Linked DNA regions of Homo sapiens: region 1 is linked to region 2. Evidence: fine-mapped expression QTL. A gene starts in region 2. The other region holds a variant in brackets. All regions are shown on one strand. Distances are between the middles of the regions. Region 1 overlaps MPG (N-methylpurine DNA glycosylase). Region 2 holds the start of RHOT2 (ras homolog family member T2).

Region 1 (3,000 bases), 580 kb after region 2:
CCTTCCAGGGGCTCCAGTGCTCGCAGCAAGACGCAAGCCCCGTCCCCTGTGGGACGGACAGTTTGGAAGTGGAGCCTCCCTAGGCTCCTGTCCTCTCTGCCCTAGTACACATCCAGACATCCTGTGCTGCAGGGAGGGTGCAGCTGCCTTCCTGCCTGGGCCAGGGACCTGCTCTGTGCACCTGCACCATCTCCTGGGTCTGACCTGGTGGGAGGGGGCTGCACCTCACTGTGTCCAGACCCCTCTGCCTACCTTGCCATCCTCCAAGCCTGCACCATGAGGTGTGCCTCCTGTGGGCACCTCTGGCTTCCACCACCAGGCAGGGCCTCCCCCACTGTGGCCGCCCCCACAAAGCCAGACTGTTAAAAACACATGACAAATGCTGGGTATCAGTTCCTTTCCACCTGGCTTCCCCTGGTCTTGTGACTGGCAGCAGCTATAAAGCCAGCAAAGGAAGCTCCAGAGAGCCAGTCCTCGGGTGCGATCATTCAGCCAGGAAGCAGGAAGCCTTGGCCTAGCCAGGCCCCAGCGCTCCCCTTCTGCCTCACCCACTCAGTGTTTGTGTTGGTCAAGTGGTGGGGGCTAGGAGTTGGCTTAGAGCAGCTGCCAGTGTGCACCGGATGTTGGGAGAGCCCATGCAATGACTCAGTGGAAGGACTGACTGCAACACCCTGCACAGGCAGGGCAGGAGGAGGCTGACAAAGCCCCCTCACCTCCCTTGGGATCCCTCCTCCAGCCTAGCCCCCTCCCTCACCAGGCCAGGCCCCTTGAGAAACAGAGACAGCAAGCGAAGGCTCCTGGGCCCAGGGGCTCACTCAAGCACAGATACCCGAATTCCCTCTGCCCTGCAGGTTTGGAAAGGCCCCTTGGATTCCTGGCTGGGGACAATGATGACCTGGACCCTGGCCAGAAGAGCCCTGGCCCTCCAGCAAGGCAGCACCTGCTCTGATGCACCTGTGCACCCCTGGCCCTCCCAGCCACCTGGGAGTCCGAAGCTTAGCCTGGAGGTGGCCAAGCCAGTCCCTACTCTTGGGCTGCGGCCACGTGAGGCTCCGCATCAGCAGCCAGGGGCGAGCACTAGTGGACAAAGCCAGCAAATGCGGCGTTCCTGTGAGCAGATACCCTCAACCAGCCAGCTGTCAAAAGTATTTCAAGATAAAATCCAGGCCAAGCAAAGCCTTTAAGTTCCCGTCCATTCTGTGATTCCCACGCTGCTTCCAGCTCACCAGGTGGGGTGCCTGCTGCCCACCCTGACCCACCTCAGTAGGGAGGAGCAGGACCCTCTACATCCCTGTGGGTGCAGGGCACACGCCCCTCGTTGTCTCACTGAGCCCCCACAGAGCCGCCTGCAAATGAGTCAAAGCCTGGCCGCCCTCATCACCACAGCCCCGTGCCCTGGCTCCTTCACACAGAACACATCCAAGTCCCACATCCTGACAAAAACATGACCCCTTTGATCACTTCCTGCCAAACCTCCCTTTCCTCACCGACTCCTCCGCCGACCCTAAGTCCCCCTGCTGTGCCCACTGCTCCATCCTTGGCAACCTGACCACGCTGCTCTTAGCACTGCAGTCATCCTCTTCTCCAATCAGCTTCTCATCCTCATGTGCTGCCTCCGTCAAGGGCAGGCGACACTGTGTCCTCGGCCTTCTTTCTGCCTCCACTCCAACCAACCCTTTCTTTTCCTTTCCTTTTTTTTTTTTTTTGAGATGGAGTCTCGCTCTGTCACCCAGGCTGGAGTGCAATGGCGCGATCTT[G/C]GCTCCCTGCAACCTCCGCCTCCCGGGTTCAAGCGATTCTCCTGCCTCCGCCTCCCTAGTAGCTGGGATTACAGGAGCCCACTACCACACCCAGCTAATTTTTGTATTTTTGGTAGAGACAGAGTTTCACCGTGTTGGCCAGGCTGGTGTCGAACTCCTGACCTCAGGTGATCCGCCCGCCTCGGCCTCCCGAAGTGCTGGGATGACAGGCGTGAGCCACCGCGCCCGGCCCCACCCGGCCCTTTCTACCCCTTTAACCTAACCAGCCCTGCCCCGTCAGCGTAGCCAGAGCTCCCGAAACCCTGGCCTGGCCTGGAAGTGGCACCTCCTCGCTCAAATGCTGGCCCCACCTCAGTCCTCCTAGTGGTCCCCTGGCTGCTAGCGGACAGGGCTCTGCCGGCCCTCCAACCCCCCGTGCCCCAGCACTGCTCACCCTGGCTGGAGATGTTCATGCAGAAGTACATGCCGTAAATGATGTACACGTACAGGGTCCCCGGCTTCATGAACATGCCTCGGTTGCGGGGGGTCTGCCGGCCACCCCTTGAGTGGGCGGCTTCATCCTCTGGCCCCAGGTATGCCTCGGTCTCCACGATGCGGCCTCGGAGTTCTGTGCCATTAGGAAGTCGCCGGACTAGGACCTGTGGGCAGTCAGTTTCTGCTCAGGGCGGGAAGGGATGGGGGTCCACTCACCCTAACAGTGCCCAGCCTGGACCTCATCTCCCCAGCTCAGGGTGTGTCAGCCGCCCAGGTCTAGCCAGGGACCTTGCCCCGTCTCCATCCTGCCTCTTCTCTTGCTCCTGCTGAGGCTGAATGTGGCTATTGAGGGCACCAGTTGTCTCCTCCAGCCCTGCTAGACAACCAGACCGCAGGCCGAAGATACCTCAGGCCACAGCCAGGCTGGGCTGGGAACCGGCAGTCATGGATTCACCTTGCAGGTCAAGTCCTCTCAGCAGGACCCTCCATTCCCCAGATTCCTCCTTTCCCAAGTGCCCTTGAGAAAACCATCAGCATTTAGCACGAGGCCAGGCATCACGGAAGGCACAGGACCCCAAGGATGTCCCCACACCAGCTACCTGGGCAATCCCAGAGCCCGTGAAGTCCCCTAAACCTGGGCTGCTGAGGTGGCCACAAGGGACCCTCATACTCAGCTCCCACCCTCCGGCTTTCTGAGCAGTAGGCCCAGCTGCCCCACGGTGCCCCAGCCTGGACCATGGTCCTGGTAACGGCCAACAGTTGTGTCACT
Region 2 (2,546 bases):
GTTTGCCTGAGGGAACAGTGATGAGGTGTGGGTGACAGGGCTGCTGGCTCACCACCGACGACCCTGGCCGTTCCACGCCATCTCGAGGCTCCAGGAGGCCCCAGAAGCTCACAGGTAGCATGGGTGCAGCTCTGAGGCCGGGAAAGCCCAGCCTTCCCTAAAACCTGCCTCCAGCCTGGTGTTGGCAGAGCAGGCACTCCCCAGTGTCACACTGGGAGCTGCTGCTGAACCCTCAGAGAAGCCTCTTCCCCGCCCACTGCCAGTGCAGGGACACCAGGCCCCAGAAGCATAACTGTGGTCAGCAAGACCCTTGGAGCAGAGGGCTCAGGACAGACACGGCCACACCTGCAACCCAACACCCTGCAAGACAGCCGCCGCCTTGGCCCCTGCCTCCCCCCTCGCTACAGACAGAGTGACAGGACCGCAGTGAGGGGTGCCAACAGCAGGGGCTGCCCTGGGTGGCTGTGGCCTGTGCCCTTGCCTGGAGATGTCCCCGGCACACGTGCTCTGGTACTGGGAGCTCCGGGTGCCCGGAGGCCGGGACGGTGGGCTGGAGCACACAGCACGGGGACGTGGCGCACACAGAGCCCACAGGAAGAGCAAACGCTGCTGCCACCCCGGCAGGAGGGAGGGAGAGCCCGCGGGGAAGGGTCCTGTTATCCCTGGAGCACCACTGGACTGAGCGGTGCCGGCTCCCAGCGGGGTGCGCTGTAGGGGCCCCGACAACCCTCAGTGCGGAGGTCACAGAATTATCAGGGCCAAGGACACCCGGAGCACCTCGGTCCAATCCCCCAGGCTGCGAAGCGGATTAGGCCGAGCCCGCGCCCAGCCCCTCCCTCGTCCCGCGCACCACGGGTACCTTGTGGATCTCCTCCCGCAGCTCCTCGTCCGTCTGCTCGGCTTCTAGGGGGACAAAGAGACTCCACTGCGGACCCAGCAGGCCCGCCGGACCGCTGCGGGCCGGGCCCCCGGGAGGCTACGGCCGCTACCTGAGTAGTCCACGATGTGGGTGGGCACCTTCTCCGGGGTGACGTCCGCGGGGATGGTGATCTCCTCCGCGCGGGGAGGGACCTGCAAGGGACCCGCGCGCTCACCAGGGACCCCCGGCTGGGCCCGCTCCCACCCCCGCGGCGGGCGTGCCCCTTACCTCCTCGGGGAACTCCTCGCCCACCAGGGACAGGATCAGCGACGTCTTCCCCACCTGGGCTGCGCGGGGCGAGGCGGTCAGCGCGAGGGCCAAGGTCACGGCGCCCCCCGACCCCCGAGACCCTCACCCCGCCTCACGGCCGCCGCAGCTCCGAGACCCCCGGGCCGGCGCCTACCCTCGCCCAGTAACAGGATGCGCACGTCCCGCCTCATAGCTGCCGCCCGGAGCCGCTCCCCGACCCGGAACCCGGCCCCGACCTGGTCCTCAAGCCTTTCGCTCTGCCCCCGCGCCCGCCCCGCACTTCCGGTTCTCGGCCCCGCGCTGTCCCCACACTTCCGGCCCCGCCCGCACAGCCGCACCAGCGAGCCGGGCGGGCCAGAGCGGACAGGCTGTGCGGCGCGCCACCGTGTGGACGCGCCGGCCACGGCGGACAGCGCAGGGTCCTGGCGCCCTGGCAGGCCGAGCGGCCATTGCTTCACGGCACCACAGGGGCCTTGACAAACAGCCGATTAAGGGACGGGCAGAGGCTGAGCTCAGGCCAGGAGTGACCAGAGACAGCCAGTGCAACAATGCAGCAATAATGCAATAAATGCCCATGTTTATTACAAGATAGAAACATTAAAGATTTCTTAGGCAAAAGGGCAACAGGTATGAAAGTATTCACAGGGCGCCAAATTTACAACAGCTTGCTCCAGGCGATTTACGTGAATCCTGGCCTGTCCCAGCATGAGGCCATTGACAACCTGGCGCCTCTGCCAAGCCTGTGTCCAGGTGCCTGGCATGACCAGGCGTGATGCCCACCACCACAGTCCCTGCTGCATCTCAGAGGCCGGGGACCTCCCACACAAGGATCTCGTTGCGGGCGGCCGTGAAGAGCAGCCTGGCGGACGGTGTAAACCTGCACAGGTGCACTGCGTTGTCGTGGCCGGCAAAGTCTTGGGCAGTCCCCATGGCACAGTCTACCAGCCTCAGCATGCACTCTGTGGGTAGACGGTGCAGGTGGGCCAGGGCCAGGACCAGGCAGCACTCAGAGGGCTCCCCCAACCCACCCAGACTGTCCCCACTGGGCATGATGCTGGTCGGGGGAGCTGGTGCTAAAAGGGCTCCTGGCTGTGCCCTCCACGTGCCACTGGGACTAGGGGGTCCATCACTGCCAGGCTGTCGGCCTGCAGCTGGGCCAGTTCCCTCCTTAAAAGTCGCTGCCACCCGTGCATTCAGGCCCTGTGCTGGGCGCTGTGCCTGGTTCCTCACCTGCCTCATCATCTCCTGACTCCAGGACCCTCTCTAGGGCAGATGTCCTCACCCCACCCCAGAGACGAGGAGCCCGGGGCACAGGTGAGGCACCTGTCTTGGAACAGGGCACCAGTCAGCCCACTTGGCCCCCACCTAAGACAGGCCC

What was found.
Region 1: its variant is fine-mapped to the expression of RHOT2 in skeletal muscle (GTEx, PIP 0.93).

Annotation. Positions count from the first base shown.
Region 1 is chr16:82,447-85,446 of GRCh38, reverse strand. MPG (N-methylpurine DNA glycosylase) reads right to left here. Exons shown (of 4, transcript NM_001015052.3): 3 at 2,191-2,395; 4 at 1-46. It overlaps NPRL3 (NPR3 like, GATOR1 complex subunit), which reads left to right. Exons shown (of 14, transcript NM_001077350.3): 14 at 1-61. Among named protein-coding and RNA genes, the nearest start is that of MPG, 5.7 kb to the right of the region's middle. RefSeq lists enhancers at 157-276, 984-1,839 and a silencer at 377-436. The variant G/C (reference allele first, on the strand shown) is at 1,758.
Region 2 is chr16:667,013-669,558 of GRCh38, reverse strand. RHOT2 (ras homolog family member T2) reads right to left here and starts at 1,427. Exons shown (of 19, transcript NM_138769.3): 1 at 1,323-1,427; 2 at 1,148-1,206; 3 at 990-1,071; 4 at 860-903; 5 at 1-6. The coding sequence starts at 1,359. It overlaps WDR90 (WD repeat domain 90), which reads right to left. Exons shown (of 41, transcript NM_145294.5): 41 at 1,729-2,127. The coding sequence ends at 1,970. RefSeq lists silencers at 960-1,049, 1,150-1,249, 1,310-1,649 and an enhancer at 1,035-1,716.